Linked DNA regions of Homo sapiens: region 1 is linked to region 2. Evidence: fine-mapped expression QTL. A gene starts in region 2. The other region holds a variant in brackets. All regions are shown on one strand. Distances are from middle to middle.

What was found. PIP is the estimated chance that this variant, and not a neighbour inherited with it, causes the effect.
Region 1: its variant is the best candidate, but not a certain one, in a credible set for the expression of KRABD5 in whole blood (TOPMed, PIP 0.85).

The regions. Positions count from the first base shown.
Region 1 is chr16:31,683,318-31,688,691 of GRCh38, reverse strand. No RefSeq gene overlaps it. Among named protein-coding and RNA genes, the nearest start is that of KRABD5, 27 kb to the left of the region's middle. The variant C/T (reference allele first, on the strand shown) is at 2,865.
Region 2 is chr16:31,710,149-31,715,522 of GRCh38, reverse strand. It overlaps KRABD5 (KRAB domain containing 5), which reads right to left and starts at 2,279. Exons shown (of 5, transcript NM_001130913.2): 1 at 2,088-2,279. The coding sequence starts at 2,090. RefSeq lists enhancers at 819-868, 1,993-2,112 and a silencer at 1,843-1,902.

The sequences.
Region 1 (5,374 bases), 27 kb after region 2:
GATTTGGTCTTTTCACATAGTCCCATATTTCTTGGAGGCTTTGTTCATTTCTTTTTATTCTTTTTTCTCTAAACTTCTCTTCTCGCTTCATTTCATTCATTTGGTCTTCCATCGCTGATACCCTTTCTTCCAGTTGATTGAATTGGCTACTGAGGCTTGTGCATTCATCACGTAGTTCTCATGCCATGGTTTTCAGCTCCATCAGGTCCTTTGAGGACTTCTCTGCATTGGTTATTCTAGTCAGCCATTCGTCTAATTTTTTTCAAGGTTTTTAACTTCTTTGCCATAGGTTCAAACATCCTCCTTTAGCTCAGGTTTGATCATCTGAAGCCTTCTTCTCTCATCAAAGTCATTCTCCGTCCAGCTTTGTTCCATTGCTGGTGGGGAGCTGCATTCCTTTGGAAGAGGAGAGGCCCCCTGATTTTTAGAGTTTCCAGTTTTTCTGCTCTGTTTTTTCCCCATCTTTGTGGTTTTATCTACCTTTGGTCTTTGACGATGGTGATGTACAGATGGGTTTTTGGTGTGGATGTCCTGTTTGTTAGTTTTCCTTCTAACAGTCAGGACCCTCAGCTGCATGTCTGTTGGAGTTTCCTGGAGGTCCACTCCAGACCCTGTTTGCCTGGGTATCAGCAGCGGAGGCTGCAGAACAGCGGATATTGGTGAACAGCAAATGTTGCTGCCTATTCGTTCCTCTGAAAGTTTTGTCTCAGAGGATTATCCGGCCTTGTGAGGTGTCAGTCTGCCCCTACTGGGGGGTGCCTCCCAGTTAGGCTACTAGGGGGTCAGGGACCCACTTGAGGAGGCAGTCTGTCCGTTCTCAGATCCAAGCTGCGTGCTGGGAGAACCACTACTCTCTTCAAAGCTGTCAGACAGGGGCATTTAAGTCTGCAGAGGTTTCTGCTGCCTTTTGTTTGGCTATGCCCTGCCCCCAGAGGTGGAGTCTACAGAGACAAGAAGGCCTCCTTGAGCTGTGGTGGGCTCCACCCAGATCGAGCTTCCCAGCTGTTTTCTTTACCTACTCAAGCCTCGGCAATGGCGGATGCCCCTCCCCCAGCCTCACTGCCGCCTTGCAGTTTGATCTCAGACTGCTGTGCTAGCAATAAGTGAGGCTCCGTGGGCATAGGACCCTCCAAGCCAGGCGGGAGATATAATCTCCTGGTGTGCCGTTTGCTAAGACTGTTGGAAAAAGTGCAGTATCAGGGTGGGAGTGACCCGATTTTCCAGGTGCCATCTGTCACCCCTTTCTTTGACTAGGAAAGGGAATTCCCTGACCCCTTGCGCTTCCCGGGTGAGGCGATGCCTCGCCCTGCTTCGGCGCACACTCAGTGCAGTGCACCCACTGTCTGACACTCCCCAGTGAGATGAACCCAGTACCTCAGTTGGAAATGCAGAAATCACCCGTCTTCTGTGTCACTCACGCTGGGAGCTGTAGACTGGAGCTGTTCCTATTCGGCCATCTTGGTTCCACCCTTTTCTTTTCAATTAAAAAAAATTATTATATATTTATGAGATACAATGTGATGTTTGATATATGTATACAGTATGGAAAGATTCAATTGAGCCAATTAACATAGCCATCCACTCACCAATTTAGCATCTTTTTTGTTGTGAGAATATTAAAAATTGAATATTGTGATTTAAATGTACAATTCATTATTAACTGTGTTCACCATGCAGTACAATAGAACACACTTATTCCTCCAGACTAAATAAAAGTTTGTATCCTTCCATAAACATCTTCTTTTTCCGTATTCTTCCCGTCCCCCTGACCCAGCCTCTGGTTGCCACCTTTCTAGTCTCTTTTCTCTGTTTCTGTGAGATCAACCTTTTTGATTCCACGTATAGGTGAGATCATATAGTATTTGTCTTTCTATGCCTGGTTTACTTCACATAGCAGAATATCCTCTGGTTAAATCCAAGATATCACAGATGACATAATTTCCCTCTTTTTTATGGAAAAATAGTTCTCCAATATATATATACACCACATTTTCTTTTCTATTCTTTCTTTCTTTTTTCTTTTTCTTTTTTTTTTTTTTTTTTTTTTTTTTTTTTTTTTTTTGAGACAGGTTCTTGCTCTGTTGCCCAGGCTGGAGTGCAATGGCATGATTTCAGCTCACTGCAACCTCCTCCTCCTGGGTTCAGGCTATTCTTCTGACTCAACCTCCTGGGTAGCTGGGATTACAGGTCCCCACCACCATGCCCAGCCAATTTTTGTATTTTTAGTAGAGACGGGCATGTTGGCCAGGCTGGTCCTGAACTCCTGACTTCAAGCCATCTGCCCGCTTTGTCTTCCCAAAGTGTGGGATTACAGGCATAAGCCACCATGCTCAGCCCACAGTTTCTTCATTCATCCATTGATGGACACTTGGGTTGCTTCCATATCTTGATTATTGTCAGTAATGCCAAAATAACCATGAGGGTAAATATCTCTCTTCAATATACTAATTTAAATTCTTTTTGATATATACCACAAAAGTGGAATTGCTAGATCATAGGATACCTTTTTTTTTTTGATGGAGTCTCACTCTGTCACCAGGCTAGAGTGCTGTGGCGCATTCTCGACTCAGTGCAACCTCTGCCTCCCAGGTTCAAGGGATTCTTCTGCCTCTGTCTCCCAAGTAGCTGGGATTACAGGCATGCGCCACCATGCCTGGCTAATTTTTGTAGTTTTAGTAGAGATGGGGTTTCACTATGTTGGCCAGGATGGTCTCGATCTCCTGACCTCGTGACCTGCCCGCCTCAGCCTCCCAAAGTGCTGGGATTACACGCGTGAGCCACTGCGCCTGGCCAGGATACTTTTATTTCTAGTTTTTTGAAGAACGTCCATACCGTTTTCAGAATGGCTGTACTACTTTACATTC[C/T]CACCAATAGGGTACAAGAGTTTTCTTTTCTCCACATCTTTGCCAACACTTGAAATCATTAGTCTTTTTGATAAGAACCGTTCTAACAGGCCTGAGGTGATAACATTAACATTGCTTTCCTTTTTTCTCAATTAAGTGGTCAGAATTTTGTATTTAATGTCTTTAAATGGCCTCATACCTATAATCCCAGCATTTTGGGAGGCTGAGGCAGGCGGATCACCTGAGGTCAGGAGTTCGAGACCAGCCTCACCAACATGGTGAAACCAAGTCTCTACTAAAAATACAAAATTAGTTGGGCGTGATGGCGCTCACCTGTAATCCCAGCTACTCGGGAGGCTGAGGCAGGAGAATTACTTGAACCTGGGAAGTGGAGGTTGCAGTGAGCCAAGATCACACCACTGCACTCCAGTCTGGGCAGCAAGAGCGAAATTCTGTCTCAAAAAAAAAAATGGCCTCAAACTCCCACTGAAAATGATTTCTCATGGCATTAGCATAATTTCAGACTACTCATCAGAATGATGAAGTCCCATGTGAAATGACCTGGAGTGGGGAGGGCAGGGAGGAAGCTGCAGCCAGAACAGACAAAGGAGAAGGGCTGGGATGCCTGTGGAGCTAGTGGTGAAACTTGTGAACCCCAAGTACCTGAGATGGGTCTCAGTCAATTTACAAAGTTAATTTTGCCAAGGTTAAGGATGCATGCCTGTGACACAGCTTCAGGAGGTCCTGATGACATGTGCTCAAGGTGGTCAGGGCAGAGCTTGGTTTTATACATTTTTAGGGAGAAATGGGATATTAACCAATCTATGTAAGATGAACATTGGTTCAGTCCTGAAAGGCAGGACAACTCAAAGCAAAGGCATGACAAACGGTTACATTCTTTTTTTTTTTTTTTAAGATGAAGTCTTGCTCTTGTCACCCAGGCTGGAGTGCAACGGCACCATCTCAGTTCATTGCAACCTCCACCTCCCGGGTTCAAGCGATTCTCCTGCCTCAGCCACCCAAGTAACTGGGATTACAGATGCCTGCCACCACGCCCAGCTAATTTTCATATTTTTAGTAGAAAATATGAAAATAACTTTCAGCCTCTCTCCCTCCTCAGAGGTTGGGGTGGGGCTAAGAAATGGTCTGTTACAGTGAAATTGTATCTACAGTCAAGAGACTGTATCATCCAGGTGAAGAAGTGGCATTGCTTCTACATGTGGAGAGAGGATGCCTGTTCCCAGGCTGCAACACTGATTCTGTGGTGCAAGAATTCTGCTGGCTTCATTTTTGAATTCTTTCCAGTTCCTCTCTGTCTGTTAAATCAGTGAAAGGTAAATAAATATTGGAACCCCAAAATCACTCATCTAAAGGGAAAAGTCAAGTTGGGAACTGCTTAGGGCAAACCTGCCTTCCATTCTATTCAAAGTCATCCCTCTGCTCACTGAGAAAAATGTGTATCTTGTTGCCTCCTTTGGAAAGGCTAATTAGAAACAAAACAATGCAACCTTGGTCGGGCGTGGTGGCTCACGCCTGTAATCTCAGCACTTTGGGAGGCCGAGGTGGGCGGATCACCTGAGGTCAGGAATTCGAGGCCAGCCTGGCCAACACGAAACCCCGTCTCTACTAAAAATACAAAAATTAGCCAGGCGTGGTGGCGGGCACCTGTAATCCCAGCTATTCGGGAGACTGAGACAGGAGAATCACTTGAACCCGGGAGGCAGAGGTTGCAGTGAGCCGAGACTGTGCCATTGCACTCCAGCCTGGGCAACAGAGAGAGACTCCATCTCAAAAAAAAAAAAAAAAGAAAAGAAAAAAGAACTGAATTATACAACTCCCAGGCTATTGATTCAGAGAAATCTCCATACATTTTGGTGACAGAAGACACAGAAGTATTCTGTATTGATTGTCGAGTGAGGAAAAAGGAAAAACACTTTGGTTGATTTATTTTTTCTATATCTCTCTGAGTTAGAAAAGTGAAAAATAAGGTGGGGATGTGTATATATTAATGACAAAAGTTGTTCAAGAGAAAGATGTATCAAACTGGCATCTACAAAGGCGAAGTAAAATGGTTTTGATAAACTTATCCCAAGAAATGTGGAGAAACAGGTCTAAGAAACACATTCTATTGGAGGAGACCATCGTGTTTGTGAAAATCTCCCTGGGCAGTTCTCACACGCAGCCTGGGTTGAGATCTGCATCCCTAGAAGAAGAGGGTTATCTTTGTCATGCACTGTTCTGAGGAGAGGGGTGACCTTAGTGCTTCCTCATCTTGTTTTTTTTGAGACAGAGTCTCGCTCTGTCACCCAGGCTGGAGTGCAGTGGCACGACCTCAGCTCACTGCAACCTCTGCCTTCTGGGTTCAAGCGATTCTCCTGCCTCAGCCTCCTGAGTCGCTGGGACTACAGGCACATGCCACCACATCCCGCTAAGTTTTGTATTTTTAGCAGAGATGGGGTTTCACCATGTTGGCCAGGCTGGTCTCCAACTCCTGACCTTGTGATCCACCTGCCTCAGCCTCCCGAAGTGCT
Region 2 (5,374 bases):
TGACCAGTTTATTATAAAAGATACAACTCAGCCTAATGGAAGAGATGTGTAGGGCAAGAGAAAGGAGTGGGGAAAAGATGGAGTAGGTAGTTAACCCTGGGAAGCAGCTGTGATGAAAGAAATCCCCCTTCCTTTTTGTTCTTCAAGAGCAGCTTACTGCAAAGAATCTTCTTCCTGTTATGACTTAGATGATGCTCCCTGTTTTAGGTATCACAAAGCCACAAACTCTCCTATTTCCTTTTTTTCCCCCTCATAAGCAATTAAATAAAGAGTTTTATCTTCGATGGTCAAAACAAAATATGTGTTAACCAAAGTTGCTTAAATTTCTCCCCTTCTCCAAGGTGCCTGAGGTTTGTCCCACCCACAGCCTGAGTCAACATTCAACCCCTCTTTATGCCCCTCCTAAGAACAGGCTGACTTCAGGGTGAAACATTCTCTGATCAGGGATCTGATTTAGTCCAGGAGTCGTGCCCTTCCCCTCCCACCTTGAATCATGTTTGCTCCTCCCTATGAAAGAAAGGCCTTTTCTGCTTCAACTGTGAGATCCACAAATATCTTACAGTTGGTGCTTTCCTCCTCTTGCAATACTCCTTTACAATTAAGGCACTTCTTACCTATATCCAGATGTTTTATTTGACCAAGTCAAGAAACAGCCCCAGGACACTAACAATTCCACCCTCAGAAAGAGCTTCCCAATCTCCCTTCCAGCCCAACCTCGACCACATCCGCCTGTGAATCCCCTGCTTTCCAGAACTCTGCAGCTTCTCCCAGTAACAAAGGGCTCCCTCCATGGCTGCTGTGAACCTCAGGGACACCTGAAGGGGGCGCTCCCCAGGAAGAACTAACTGGGCCTTCAATGACCTCCTTTTGCAGGCTCAAATAAGACTGAGGTCTTCTATGCCTAGTCAGGGTTATTCCACACACCCGCTTCTCAATTCGCAGGCTCTCTCTTTCAGGTCCATCGAGGTGGGGTGCCTTCTTCCCATCTCATCAGCTCTCCACAAGCATCTAGCGAGCTCTAAAACCTACCCCAGGATAGCAAACGTCAGACCTTCCTCCACTCTCCTGGCACTGCACGCCTTCTGGGGAGTGCTGCCAATCCTACCTCAACTGAAGGGACAGGAGCAGGTGCCCAGCCAGTCAGATGTTCAGTGACCTAACAGGTTTCAGGAAAATAGCAAAATCACTCAAAACAGTTTTTATAGAAAGGAAGGAAACTGTAAGGCACTTACACTTTATACTTCAACAGGTAAGGCCAAAATACCTCTTTCGAGCAAGAAACATGTCATTTAATTATTTCCATAATAGCAGATCATTTAGTATATGTGAACACTTCTAGGAGGTGCCAAGTCCTGTCTCATAACATTTGGCATTAAAGTCGGACATCCAGATAGCAGTAGAATATGGAACACAGATATCCACTGTCACAAATCCTCCACTGCAAAAGAGAGGACCTGATATTTTAATGAATGTTTGTAATTGACCAATTAATCTAGCACACTTTCTGTGGAAATGTATTCGTTTTCTACAGCCAAAGTGGAAGAGAGATTGTCCCTATTTCTTTTCCCCAGCAGCATTCCTAAGCTGAGCCCTGGGATTTTGAAATCGCTGCTCCAGAGGACCCTAAACCACAAACCACGGCGGCAGGCTTCCCATTTCACCAATCGCTGTTTACCTAAATCAACCCTTTAACGCTTTAAGGGTGACTCCCCTTAATTTGTAAGAGGAAAAAGGAGACTGGGACACCACGGGGCACAGTATCTTCCCACACACGAATCACACGCCGACCCGGGATTTCCCCTAAGACCCTCACGTTCTCACCGCACAATCTCGGGAGACGCCGGGCTGCGGCGACCCAAAGACGGCTCCGGCCATGGCAGAGGTCGCTCTGCGGGGTCGGGAGGGGACCGGACGCGCGGGGTCCCGGCTGCCGGCCCGGCCGCCATCTTGCGGCGGAGGGGACCAAGGGCCGAGTTGCGTCCGCGGGGACTCAGGGCCCAGACCCCGAAGCTAACCTCAAAGAGGGTTCCCGCCGCTTCCGACCGCCCCTCTCCCTCTTCTGGGGACCCCCGACCTGGCACATTCACCATTTCCCAGCTTCCGGGATGTCCTGGCGTCTGAGCTACGGATCTCCCGGTGCCTGCCGGTCACAGAGTAACAGAGGTTCTGTCTATTCTCAGAACGCGAAGCCGCCTTGGCCTCCCAGATGGAAGGACTGGGAGCCCCTGGTGAAGAGACTGAGCTCTTACTGCAGCCAACAAAGGCCACCGCCAAATCCCGGAAGCCGCCCCTGCTCTCCGGCTACTCCCGATTGGAGGATTTCCACTCCGACGCCACTGATTGGGTAAAGCTCCAGGCCCCGCCCTCTCACTCGTTCTGCTTTTTGAATGGGAGACAGGCTCATTGAGGTGGGGCCACCTGCTGAGGGTATTACAGCTAATTTAAGGGGTGAGCTTGGACTTGAAATGCACTTGCTTTCCCGTACCTGGTTTTGCTTGTATAAGGCATCTTATTAGCTAATTAAGTTTAAGAAGGAGGGCATTTGGGCACCTTTAAAACAACTTTTTAACCGTTCTAATAACACAGGAAAGACCCTCATCCCATCCTTAGCACCTCTCATCACACGGTACCCCACTGCTCAGGACATAACTGTGGGACTGCAGAGGAAACTGCTGGGGTTTTTGGGGAGCATGCAGGAGGCTTCAACAGCCAAGGTAACGGTGGCTTCCCTTGGGTGTCACTTAAAATCTTGGGGTCAGGGACATCTTTTATCCAGTTGGCTCAGGGAAACTAACAGACAGGAGGATTGTAATTTTTTTTTTCTTTTCTGAATTTCCAAGACATAAAGGACTATCCAAGCATCCCAAAAGGCATTCAATTATACATAAGGCTGAGGGCCTCCCTGCTCTGGAGAGGGATGGCCTGGCAGCCACCAGCTGCAGTGAGCTGAGATAGTGCCACTGCAATGGGCCTTAAACTTGCCCTCTTGTAGACAGGCCACCTCCACACACCCGCTTCTCACATCGCAGGCTCTAACCCTCCGGTCCATCAAGGTGGGCTGCCTTCTTCCCATGTCATTAGCTCTCCACAAGCATCTAGTTAGCTCTAAAACCTACCACAGGATAGCAAACGTCAGACCCTCCTCCACTCTCCCGGCACTGCACGCCTTCTGGGGAGTGCTGCCAATCCCACCTCAACTGAAGGGACAAATCTGGGCAGGTGCCCAGTCAGATGTTCAGTGACCTAACAGGTCCAGCATGCCCAGGGCCTGACCCCACAGCCTAGCACCCCTCCCCCACCTGGCCTTCAATCCAGCCTTTCTTCTCCAATGACGGGATGTTCACCTGTGCCACAATCCCATTAGTCTAGTGACGAGGCCAGGTAAATCCCAGCTGAGTGCCTGTGACTCCACCCTCTTACTTCCCACTCAGGTGACATTACAAGCATAACCTTGAATTTGAGCTAATTTATACATATTCCTCTCCTAGTAACCTGTTTGACAACAGCCCTCACAATCCAGAGACTGGGGCAGCAGGTTCCAAAACCTCACTTTATTCCAATGTGAAATGAAGACATGATGGTTTAAAAATGAGAAAAAGTTCCTGATAAGCTGTGGGGGTGCTTCACTTGCCAGCTCATGCCCATTCCCTCTGAAACAAGGTGTCTGTTACCCATAAACAACTCTCTGTAAAGCCCCAGGTAGAGGTCACAGCTGGACGTGGCTCCCTCAGGCTCACAGGGTAGCAATCTCCTCCCCCAGTCCAGGCTTCCACAGCAGGCACGGACAGGTGCAGAGAGGGAGTGGCCATGGCCTGTGGGGTCCCCTGCCACCCTCAGAGCTAGTCTCTGCAGAAGGTGCTGTGTGGTAAGCAGCAGGGCTCCACAGAGAGGTGACAACCCTTCCTGTGTCTGCAACCTTTCCCCAGGATCCATGATTCAACCCTGGCTCCCTAGGCCCCTTACCCAGCACACCCTCCGTGTGTCAGGCAGCTCAGGTTAAAATGGGGAGAATGATATATTCCGACTGTAGACCCGAAGGTTCTGTCCATCTGGGGTACAGGGAGTAGGGACGCCAGTCAGAGCCTGTGGTAGCGCCTCCTGCTGGGCCTGAGGGCAGACAGGCCAGGGCTGGGCACAGGGACATCTGGGGGACCACCACTGACAAACCTGTCCCTCTCAGCCTGGAGCTACGGCCAGGCCAATCATGATTAATAAAACCACTGCAGCCTTCATCCTGCCACAAAACTAAAGTGGACCCCAACCCCCAGCCCTGCCACAAAGCTCTGCTCCCCATCTTTTTTGGCTTAAAACTTAGACATTAAGCCAGGTTGGGCCTGGGAGTTGTGGCAGTAAAACCAGCAGCCATAACGTCAACCACGCAAATGAGCTGAGGAATCCCATCTGTACATCATCCACTCAGAACTGCCTCGGAGCAATGCACAGGCTGGGACAGATCAATACTCATGGCCATGGATGCACTCCACACCCCTGTTGGAAGATGGAGAGGCTGAGGGGAATATGGGGAGCCCGAGTGGCCCCTCAGCTGGGAACTGAGGACCGTACATGCCATTCACAGGTCTTCAATTAGGCCTTTGCATCTTTAGGCTTTGTTGAATCAGTGCAAAAGCATCTTTTGGGGGGCATGCAGGCTGGGGTCCCAGGAGGATGGTGGGAGTGGAACGTGGAAGAGGGGCTCACTTCCTCTAAACTGCGAGCATGCCCCCTTCTCCTGGAGTCTGCATCGCTAACATCAGGGCCGCTGACTCTCTCTCTCTCAATCCCTGCAAGCTCAAGGAAAAAGGATCCTTGGCAGCCACAGGGCTGGGAGCTCAGTTCCTCTGCCCCCAGGGGCTCAGATTCAGTGGCCATAGGGGTCCCCAGCCCTAGCTCTGTTTTTTTGGTTTTGTTTTTTTGAGACAGGGTCTCACTCTATCACCCAGGCTGGAGTGCAGTGGCACAATCATGGCTCACTGCAGCCTGGACCTCTCAGGCTCAAGCGATCCTCCACCTCAGCCTGCTGAGTAGCTGGGACTACAGGTCGCGCCACCACGCCAAGCTAATTTTTGCTTTGTGTAGATGGGGTTTCATCGTGTTTCCTAGACTGATCTCCAACTCTTGAGCTCAAGTGATCCACCCACTTCAACCTCCCAGAATGCCCTATCCCTGTTTTTCTGGATTCCTGGAGCTAGTGACGCTGCACCACCTCTGCTTTCAGATTCTCCTAGTCTTCTGGGTGAGTAGAAGGTGGGAGAGGAGGTAGGTGTCAGACTGGGCCAGGGCCCTGGGCCCCCGCTAGCTTGGTTAAACTCCCACTTGGGACAGATCAGGTTCCGTGCCATATTCAGTGAGACGCGTGGAACAAGTACTTCCCTCC